Linked DNA regions of Homo sapiens: region 1 is reported to be linked to region 2. Evidence: microRNA targets listed by miRTarBase, many of them from high-throughput screens and not tested one by one. Region 2 holds a microRNA gene; the other region holds the end of a gene's coding sequence.
The links. The annotated mature microRNA hsa-miR-6716-5p reads UGGGAAUGGGGGUAAGGGCC and lies in region 2 at 2,518-2,537, opposite strand. An mRNA with a match to its seed (bases 2 to 7 or 8) in the 3' UTR can be bound and repressed. Matches are read on the target gene's strand: a 7mer-m8 pairs with bases 2 to 8, a 7mer-A1 pairs with bases 2 to 7 and ends in A, and an 8mer does both.

Region 1: the mRNA of KCNK1 is a reported target of hsa-miR-6716-5p. The part of its 3' UTR that is shown has no 7-base or 8-base seed match.

What each region holds. Positions count from the first base shown.
Region 1 is chr1:233,669,840-233,674,207 of GRCh38, reverse strand. It overlaps KCNK1 (potassium two pore domain channel subfamily K member 1), which reads right to left. Exons shown (of 3, transcript NM_002245.4): 3 at 1,694-2,937. The coding sequence ends at 2,678. Among named protein-coding and RNA genes, the nearest start is that of MIR4427, 48 kb to the right of the region's middle.
Region 2 is chr11:118,640,450-118,646,551 of GRCh38, reverse strand. MIR6716 (microRNA 6716) reads right to left here and starts at 2,552; the gene lies at 2,473-2,552. PHLDB1 (pleckstrin homology like domain family B member 1) reads right to left here. Exons shown (of 23, transcript NM_001144758.3): 13 at 4,158-4,298; 14 at 2,612-2,752; 15 at 2,378-2,480; 16 at 902-1,196; 17 at 727-817. RefSeq lists an enhancer at 2,078-2,577.

The sequences.
Region 1 (4,368 bases), not on the chromosome of region 2:
TCAACATCCCTACCAGACACGTGTCACATTTAAGTTCACGCACAGGACCATGTCCTGGAATGATAAGGCTTTCTGCTGCTGTTCTACCCTGAGGGCATTCCGCAGGCATCTTAGGAACTCAATCTTGAAGGCTCAAGCTAAGCAAGTGAGTTCAGCTTGTACTCATCACCCAGAATTCTCTAGTAGTCACTTTTACCTCCAACTTCCCACTCTCTCGCCTCCAACTAAAGGGTTCCCAAGGTCAGTTCTGGCTTAGCTACACTGTTCATCTTCCACCTCCTTGTCATGCCTGCAGCAAGCCGAATTTCTGTTCTCTGAGAGGCTGACCCAGAGCTCCTCCTGGGTGACCAAGCTCGCTTCTCCCTGGGGACCAAAGGGCAGCATCATCGGCCAAAGACAAAAAGAAACCCTGGGGAAGACATCCTCCCTTACTTTCCTGCCTGCTAGGGTGGGGGCCGAGGCAAAACTTGCTCCTACTTTTCTACTTTGCCCTTCACATTAACAACAATCTGAAGGGCATTAAGGTTTAATGTGTTCTCTGCGGATTCAAACGAGTTCCTAAAATTAAGTACTACACTCTATTACTTATTAATCACATCTGATTCAGAAGTTTTTCTTCACGTACTTCCTCATTTTCTGGACTTTGAACTTCCCTCTCATGTTAGAGCCAAGCAGCTGTAGCAAACTAGCCATTATTTTTTCCTGCATTGCATAAAATAGAATAACACTCTCCAAGTGTAATCCAGCTTCTGTGATTTATATTGATGAGCATCTCAGGACTCTGCTCCACACCAAGGCTTGTGACCATCGGAAATGTTGCAGATCCAGTTATGGCAGGATGCATGCCTCTATTCTCCAAGGATTCTCTATTCTACCCTTAACCAATGATCTGGCCTCATGACAGCAGTCTTCTATTGCAGGGACATGGTCAGCAGGGAGGAAATATGCTTACGGGGCAGCACACTTGGATTCCTCTAAAAATCATATACTATCCCTCTAAAATCACCTATATTTTTCCATCTCCCTGTCCTCTAATCAGTAAGATATTTAAGCATGTGAACCCCTATTGAGATATTGGACAATCACTCTGTAATTCTTTCTGTGTGCATGGTAGTTAATAAATGTGTATGCCTTTTCTCATTAATCTGCCTTTTTGTGAGTTGATTTTTCAGCAAATCTTCCGAAGGGTAAGGGGATGCTTTCCCTTTGCCCTGCAGTTGGTAATAATTTACTCATGGCAGCACATGGTACAGAAGGTAGAAGGTTACTGAGCGAGTGACCCACTGTCAGGAGACTGGCCCGCGATCAAAGTGCTTGGCTGGCTCATCAGAGGGCGCTGATTTTGCACTGATTTTTACCAGCCCCTCAACCACCAACTCCTGGGCAGCCACCCATGGGAGGTAAGGCTCCATTGCGGGGGTCAGTGGACATTCATTATCACACAGGGGCTTTCTCATTTTCTTTTCTAAAATCCTTAATATAATAGTATCCTGTGTACGTCATCTAAATGTGACCTTTATGTTTTCTATGAAGGACTATATATATATATATACGTATATATATATATATATATACACACATATATATATATATACATATGTATATATATACATACATATATATATGTATATACACACACATATGTATATATATTCTACATAGAGGCACACTTCTGATATATGAAAGCATAAGATTACAACCAGCTGTGATTTTTATTTATTTTAGCTTCTAAATTTAAAATTCTCAGATTAATGTAACATAATCTGTTCATTTAGGGATTCGTGTTTAAGTTCTATGCTTTAGTGCTAGGTGGCTGCAAATCACAATGTACTTTCAAAACAAAGTATCTTAACCTTTTAATAAATCCTTTTCATAACCTGTTCAATTCAAAAAAATGTTTATAAACATGTTAGACATCTGACACCATTCTATCGCAAGAGGGTAGAAACATTTATTGCAGCAGAATACTATGGTTATTCACTCTCAAGTTTATTATTCCCCTTATTTTATTGTAGCAACTCTGGATTCTTTAGTATAAAGAGAAATCAAAAGAAACAAAATATCTATAGTCTTAGTTTCAGAACTACACTAGGATCTGGTGACCTAAACCATATGTACAGAATATAAACATATTTATACTTTATATGTACATAGTTAATGGTTACCTATGCATTATAAATAGTAAGTTTAACTTAGATTCTACAAAAATAATCATTTTGGGTGGGTACATGCAAACCAGTACACATAAACCTATTTATAAAACACATCTCTATGCTTTTTTTTTTTGCTTCTAAATATAAATTTTGCTATTTAGCCATCAGCTAAATGATCTAAATGCAAACCCCAAAGTTTCCAGTTAAAAGTATAAAATCTGCTTCTAACCACAGCAGCATACTGCTTCAAGTATTCTCCTCCTATGTAAGGTCGAGATAATTTTGTCACATATGAATTTTAGGTGGACATCTCATTTCCTCACATATTAGACATCCTGCTGGGGTCACAGCTTCTTTGTTCCATTTGTCTTTTTTTGTTGTTTTTTAATAAGACATTGCAAACAGTAGCTATTTCTTAAAGTGACATAATTTTCGCTTTTGCATTCTGATAAAAATGAACATACTTAAGCCTCTTCCTTGCACCCTGACCCTGGTGCTCTAGCATAATGCAACAAATCCTACGCTCAATGGTTTGCAGGGCCATCCACGCAGGCAGATGACTGGGTGGCCACAAAAGGCTCATTTTGCTTCTGGTCCTCTTTCATGCCAGCTGCCTGGTCTGTGATCGAGGAGAAGGACAGTTGGTCATGCTCTATGATGTGCACCTGATCCTCGTCCTTGTCCTTCTTCACATAGAACATTTTTCTGAATTTTTTCAGCTCATGGAGTTCACAGAAGGTTTCCAGAACTACCAACATGGCAATAAGGCCAAGTAGCAGGTAACCTGTGTGAGAAACAGGACACTGTCTTAGTGTGATCTCAACATGGATAAATCAAGTAGCGAGTGATTTACCTCCCCACCTCATGCCAACACAGTGTTTGTTAAGGAATAAACTCATTGCCAGTTTCTTAATTTTTAGAAGTGTTTTTAAGTTCATGGTTCAAAGAGGAACTACCCATTATTAAAGAGTGAAAGACAATGAAGAATGATTTAACCTCCTATGAACTTGGATTAGTTAGAATCACAGGCTGCAATTTTTGAGAAAAAAAAAATACTTGGGGCTGATGTGGCATTATTAAAGACACATAACATACTGCACTTACCCAAGTGTGATATTTTATGCAAGGAGGGTTTGCCACCTCTGCTTTATAATCAGTGGCTCACAAAAAGCCAGTGATGTTTTAGAAAAGTTTTTGTTTTATCATGGGGTGCTCGGAAGATTTTAAGCACTCAATACTCTTACAATTTCTATTATAGAATAAGAGTTTATAATAGAAATTGCAGTCTTAAATGCTATGGTTTGGCTGTGTCCCCACCCAAATCTCATCTTGAATTCCCATGTGTTGTTGGAGGGACCTGGTGGGAGGTAGTTGAATCATGGGGGTAAGTCTTTCCCCTGCTGTTCTCATGATAGTGAATAAGTCTCACGAGATCTGATGGTTTTAAAAAGAGGACTTCCCCTGCACACATTCTCTCTCTCTTTGCCTGCTGCCATCCATGTAAGATGTGACTTCCTCCTCCTTGCCTTCCACCATGATTGTGAGGCTTCCCTAGCCACATGGAACTGTAAGTCCAATTAAACCTCTTTCTTTTGTAAATTGTCCAGTCTCGGGTATGTCTTTATCAGCAGTGTGAAAACAGACTAATACACTAAACTAAATCAAAAATTTAAGAATGTATGTTGATATTAAATAGGTCCTTGTGCATGGCTATCTACACTTGCACCTAAATCCAGCAACAAAGCCAAGCTCTTCATTATCTCTCAGTTGTTTTTGGACATGTGGACTATTCACTGGCCAACATTACCAGTTTGTTACTGGGAAAATGAAGGATAACTGTTGACTCAAGTAAAATGTATTGCTTGGAATCTGTGATGGGAAATGGTGATTTAAAATTCCTTCCATCATTTTAAAAATGAGTTTTCAGAAAAAAAAATCATAAAAAGGAACAGAAATGTGAAGATGAAAACTCCAAGAATAACAAAAATTCTGATTTTATGTCCCAGTGGTAAAACATTTGAGAAGGATTTTCGAAAATGTATGAAGTAGGGAAGCTAAAATTGGCAGCATAACAGGAATAAGGAAACTAATTAACCACAGAATACAAAGTTTTAGTATCTTCAGAATCTGACTATAGGTTTTGAAAACAATATCGTGCATTCAGTGTGCTCTCCTGTACTTTAAAAATAGTAATGACATTGTTAGACTAATTGAT
Region 2 (6,102 bases):
TGCCTCCTCTTCTGGTCTATACTTCACTCATAGTTCCTGCTTTTCCTAATCAGCCCCAAGAGGAATGGCCTGCCATACGGGTAGACAGGAATCAAAATTCCTGTAGTTGCCAAAAAGTCTACAGAAGTAAACATGCAAAAACTGGAAGTTTCCATACAGGAAATTATTGGTTAGAGAATGGTTACTATGCTGCCTTCTCTGTTCCTAAGAGCTATGAAGTTGTAATCAAACCAAGCCTCCCTAAGCCTGTTTGAGGAATACAACCTTTTTTTTTTTTTTTTTTTTTTTTTTTGAGACGGAGTCTCGCTCTGTCTCCCAGGCTGGAGTGCAGTGGTGCGATCTCGGCTTACTGCAACCTCCGCCTCCCGGGTTCACGCCATTCTCCTGCCTCAGCCTCCCGCGCAGCTGGGACTACAGGCGCCTGCCACCACGCCCAGCTAATTTTTTGTATTTTCAGTAGAGACGGGGTTTCACCGTGTTAGCCAGGATGGTTTCGATCTCCTGACCTCGTGATCCGCCTGCCTCGGCCACCTGAAGTGCTGGGATTACGGGCATGAGCCACCGCGCCCGGCCAGAATACAACCTTTTAAAACATTTTCTACCCCAAGGGAATGTGGCAAGGCTAATGTGGGTGGAAGGGCTTGGGGTGGAGCACAGGCCCTTGACATGCAGTAGGTAGCTCTGTGCCCCAACACCTTCTGCCTCCCCGATCCAGGTCAGACTCACCCTCGACTCCATGAGCCGGTTCTTCTCTGCATGAGCCTCTTTCAGCATCTTCTCCATCTCCTCGATCTTCCCCATGTCCAGACCACTCGCGCTGGGGAGAGAAGGGGAAGAGGAAGTGCATCAAGGAGCTGAGGCGGTGGCTGAGGGAGGCTGCGGGCCCAGGCGTCGGGTGTACCTGGACATGTTGTCAGGGGAGCAGGCCGAGTTGCCCCCGGTGGAGATGCTGGTCTCCATGCTGTCAGAGCTCTCCAGACTCAGCGTATCATAGGCGTGCTCACCCTCCTCCCCACGCTCCCGCCCCGCAGGCAGGTGGTGTAGGATAGAGTGGTGCATGAGAGGGGGGAAGCCCGAGGGGCCCGCTGGGAAGGGTGCTGCCCCGTGAAGGGCATCCCACTGGCACTGTGCCTCAGCTGCCGCTTTCTGCTTCAGCTCAGCCAGTCGCCGCCGCTGCTCTTCAATCACTTGTTGTCCTGAAGGAGAGACAGATGGGAGTCACAGTGGGCTCCCCACGCAGCTAAGGAGCAGGCCACTGGCAGCACAACACACAGAGGGAGGGGCAAGCAGGGAGAGGTTAACACAGAGCAGCCCCCTCTCCCCGCAGCTTCCCTAAGGCCCCTGCAGCTCCAGGCCTGGCTGCTCTGCCAATGCTTCAGTCGCCTGCACAACCGGCCACAGATGCACAGTCTGGCTTCAGTGCTCTTTCGCACCCTGAGTCCATATAGGACACCAAACCTACCCAAGTAGTGCTGGGGCAGCACGACAGCCAGTTGGCTCCAGCTCACAACCAAGGCCTAAGTAGGTCTAGGCAGGATACATGCACCCACCCTGCCTGCTGGAGAAGGGAGAAGGAAGAGATGGCAGAAACCCCATGAGCACCCAGACTGCCAATGCAGACCCCCCTGCAATGCAGAAGCAAAAGCAACAAACGCAAGAAAGAAGGCAGGGGAGACACGGTAGAGCACAGATGAGGGCAGAAGAGAGGCCAGCTGGAGGGGTGAGGCCAGCAGACACCCCAACCCAGCTCAGCCTGGGACCCTGCCTGCAGGCAGTGGGGACCTGGGCAGGACACATCATGCTGATGCCAGGGCAGGGGCTGCCTGGCCAAAGCAATGCCCTCTATGACCAACGTTCTACCTGCTGGGTCGTCGGTTGGGAGGGGCTCGGCGGGAAGCGACTCGACTGGCGTGGGGGACCCCAGGCAGAGGGTACGGTAGAGACACAGAGGGGGTAAGAGGAGAGAGAGGCACAGACATGGGCTTTCAAAACAACCAAATTGCACACAAGCAACAAGGACTCCTGGGTCCCCAGAGCCAATATCTCAGGCAACCATTTCTAGAAGTCATCAAATCCATCCCCTCCCTCCAGAGAGGGCAATGTCTAACCCGACTCAGGTCAACAAGCAGTTCCCTTATTGGCTAGGCTCTCTAGGAAAGATGTCACAGCCCCCTAAGCCCTTAGTCTCCTGCCCTGAAGGCTTTAGATAAATATCCAGGAAGCTCTTCTTTAGGTACCCACTCTAAATCCTTTCTGGTCTTGCCTAGATCCCAATTAAAGGAAAAACATCCTGTGAAAGGTGTGAGCATAGAGGAGGCATGGCAACTACCCAGGGTCCCCTCAGGAGAGCAGGTGGGCTGGCGGGGCAGTCACTCACCCTTCTGCTGCAGAGCTAGTTGGCGCTTGGTCTCGATGTCCTGCAGTGTGGCTGCCAGGTTGCGAGGAAGGCTGCCCGTGCCATTCTGGGTGAGTAGAGCGCTCTGCAGAGGAATGGAGAGTTCGGACCTGGGCTCAGAAGGCCCTTACCCCCATTCCCAAGGTCTTGGCCTCTCCCCAGGGTGGAAGTCTCCATCCCCAGCCACATGTGCAGCCCCACCCACTGTCCTCAGACCTTTGGGGAGGGGCTACGCCCCAGGGTAGCCACGCTGAGCTGGGAGGAGGAGGAGGAAGAGCCAGAGGAGGAGGGGAGGGGGCCGCTGCGGGTCCGGGGAAGGGGGCTGGTGGCCTCGCCATCCATCTTGGAGCGGTAAACCTGGAAAGAAAAGATAGTGCCCAGTGATTCCTGGCTCCCCCATTGGCCACCTCCCCCATGTCACCTAGTCTGCTGTGATCTGACGTACCGCCCTGGCACTAGGCCTCTGAGGCCTTCTGGCTCTGACAACAAGCCTCCTGAGCCAGCCCAATGGCCAGATGCTATTGGCAGCTGCCAATTCTCCTTTCCAGGCTGTTCCTCCCTGGGCCAATCCCTAGCCCAACCCTGGGTCTAAGAAAAGACCTGTAAACAGACCCATGCAAGGATTTAATGTCAGTCAGGCAGTTGTGCAGGAGACCAACTAGAAGCTGGGTTCCCTCTGGTCCTAGCTCTGCCACTAACAGGCTGTGTGACCTTGGGCCACACACCTCCCTACTCTGGGCCTTGGCTTCCTTATCTGCAAAAGAAGGGGGTAGGACTAGACTAAATAATGGCCAAGCTCCCCTGCAGCACTAGCATGTGGTGAATATGGCCTTTAGTGTCACAAACCCTGACGTGGCATAAGCTCTGCTACTTCCTAGCTGTGTGGCCTTGGAGAGATTACTTATCTTCTCTAGGCCCCAGTGTTTCATCTATAAAATGAGTTAACTTCATCTACCTCAAAGGCCTATGATGATGATCAGAGAATCAAAACACGTTAAAATCTCTAACCAGCTGGGTACACAGTAGAAGTCTTACATGATCAAACTCCTCCCCAAGGAAACATGAAATTTTAGCTGAGGTCACAGTCTTACAGATGCAGTGCCTTCACTCAAGGGGTGATCTTAAATGGTCAATCTTAGGCACTGCAGCTGGTCAGTGGAGGAAACCTGAGGAGAAGACTAGCCCAGCCCCCTTTCCCACCCCATGGTCAGTTGCTTGCTGCAGGTTCAGGTAGGCCCACGCCCTCCATGGCAACTCTGAGGAGGCTTAGGCTGTCACTTCAGAGTCTTTGCCCTTTGTTTTCTGCTTCCAAGTGTCACTGCTGGAGAGACCAGGAGAACAAAATACTGGCAGTTCTTCCCAGGACACACTAGTTCCAGTTGCCACAGGCCCAAGAGCCTGTCAGGCCCCCAGACTGGGTGAGAAGCTCCAGGTGTTGGGGGCTGCCAAGCATAGGCCAGACCCACAGCCTAGCTCAGCACAGGGCACCAAACAGATCCCAAACTGACCACAGCTCCAGAATCCTCTTCCACCAGACACTCAATCAGATAGTTTTAGACTATGGAGGCTGGCCCCCCGGTTGCCCACATGCCAGGATGGCTGCCCAAGGAGTGACCCTCTCAGGGCCCAGAGGTGCCCTCATTGCCCTGACTGGGCTGACGCCTCCACTCAAGGTGGTACTGTGTGGCTGATGGATTGGCAGGAGGTATCAGAGTGGACAGGTGCAAAGGCTGGGGAGGACGGGCAGTGAAGGAGGGGTTACCTGCAGCTGACGGGAAGCTTTGGCGGGCAGAGGCGGGGGAGAAGAGTGAGGGGAGGCTGCAGCGGGGCCAGTCCCCAGCCCGGCCATCAGCTCCTGGTACCACTGCTCTAAGTCTACAGCAGGGAGCAGCAGCTTCTCCATCTGGAGGTGGGAATGGGGAGGGGAAAAGGGGACAGGAGGGGAGGATGGAGAGGAAAGGCCAGGAAATAAAGGGAAAGGAAAAGGCAGGAGAAGGGAGAAAGAAGAAAGAAGAGGAAGAAGGAAGGGGAAGGTTAAAAAGGAAGGCCACATCAGGGAAATGGACAGGAAGGTGAAGGAAGAAGGGGAGGAAGGAAGGGAGAAAGGAGAGCATCAAGAAAAAGAAGAGAAAAACAGTGAGACAACAGTTGCCCTGAATGTACTAAGGGCAAAGAGAAACAGTCAGGGTACAACTTCCAGACCACAGACATGTGCTACACCAGCCATGAAACCAGCCACCAGACAGAGCCTGCAGGCACTGGGCACTCCCCTTGGGCTGGCCCAGAGCCAAGAGGCCAGGTGAGCAGGAGCAAAACACACACAGAGCACACCAGTCATGGGTGGGGGTAGCAAGAACTCACAAACCACCAACCTTAGGTGAAGGCGTGATGGAAGCGAACGAGGAGGAGGGCAGCATGGGAGGAAGGCAGGTGGTGGGAACCAGGTCCCGGGAGGCGGAGGCCCAGGGAGAAAGGCCTGGCACAGGGGCTGGGGGCATGGGCGAGGTGCCCCGCATCACCTTTAGCTGCTCAAGCATCACGTACTTGGAGCAAGGCCAGACGCAGGAGGGAATATAAGAGGTTAATGGAACCAGAACACATGAGATGGCCCTACCCACAGGGGAAGGGAGGGAAAGGGCAGAAAGTACAGAGCCTGCAGCCTAGGAAAGCCAGAGTCCTCTCAACTCGACACCCTCATCCTAGAGCAGAAGGCGTGCCCCTCCCCAGGCCATAGGAGCTAAAGAAAGCTCCCAAGGCCCCAGGGAAAAAAAGAAACCACTCCCAACCTCCCCTTATGCAGGCTGCCCTTCTCCCTCACTGTCGAACACAGACCCTTCTGTCCCCCTAGCTCCACCCAGGCCCAAGGGGGAATCTAGGCCATCCATAAAGAGGTCCTTGGGCATTGGTGGGCACCCTCGGTGGCTGGTACCTCACTGTCAGGCAGGGGCTGGGCGAGCACACTGGGGGAAGTGGCAGAAGCATAGGGGTCCAAGCGGGAACACAGCTGGAAAACTTCTGCCAGGGTCACATATTCCTGGGGTGCCCAGTAGAAGGGGTAGGGGTGGGCAAAGAAGGGGTTAACAGGGTTCAATAAGGTGCCCAACACCCCAAACTCCATGCCAGGCCACAGGGCCATCACTCCATGTCAATACAAAATCCAAGGCAGGGGTAGGGTGCCTGCTATGCCCATAGATGGCTGCAGGGAGTGACAGAGACCAGAAAAGGGCAGCAGAACCAACTGTCTGAAGGCTCCTCCTGCCCTCCACTCTTAAAGAGCCACTTTGGCATCCAGTCCTGCCCCAAGCAGACCCTGAAGGCCCATGCCTGAATTCGCCCTGGGCTGGGGGCAGGCAAAGAAGCCCACAGAAGGCCTTCTAAGAGTTCACTGAGGATCAGAACCCAGCTTCCAGAGACCCCCTCCCCGTCCCCAACAACCTGGCAGTCCCCAGTGGGGCACACACATGCAGCATTGAGCACCAGTCACACCATTCCCCAGGGTCCCCTCACACCCCATCAGCCTGGACAGGAGCTAGAAACAGGTGGGGGAAGGTGGAGACATCACCAGGGCCTGAGCAAGATGGGCTGTGAGAAAGAGGCCTTAGCAAGAACAGCTAAAAGCCTAGCAGAAAAATGGGCCCACTGCCCAAGGTGAGTCCTTGGAAAGATGCCAACACATTCAACTGTGGGTCGGGAGGATAGGGACTGTC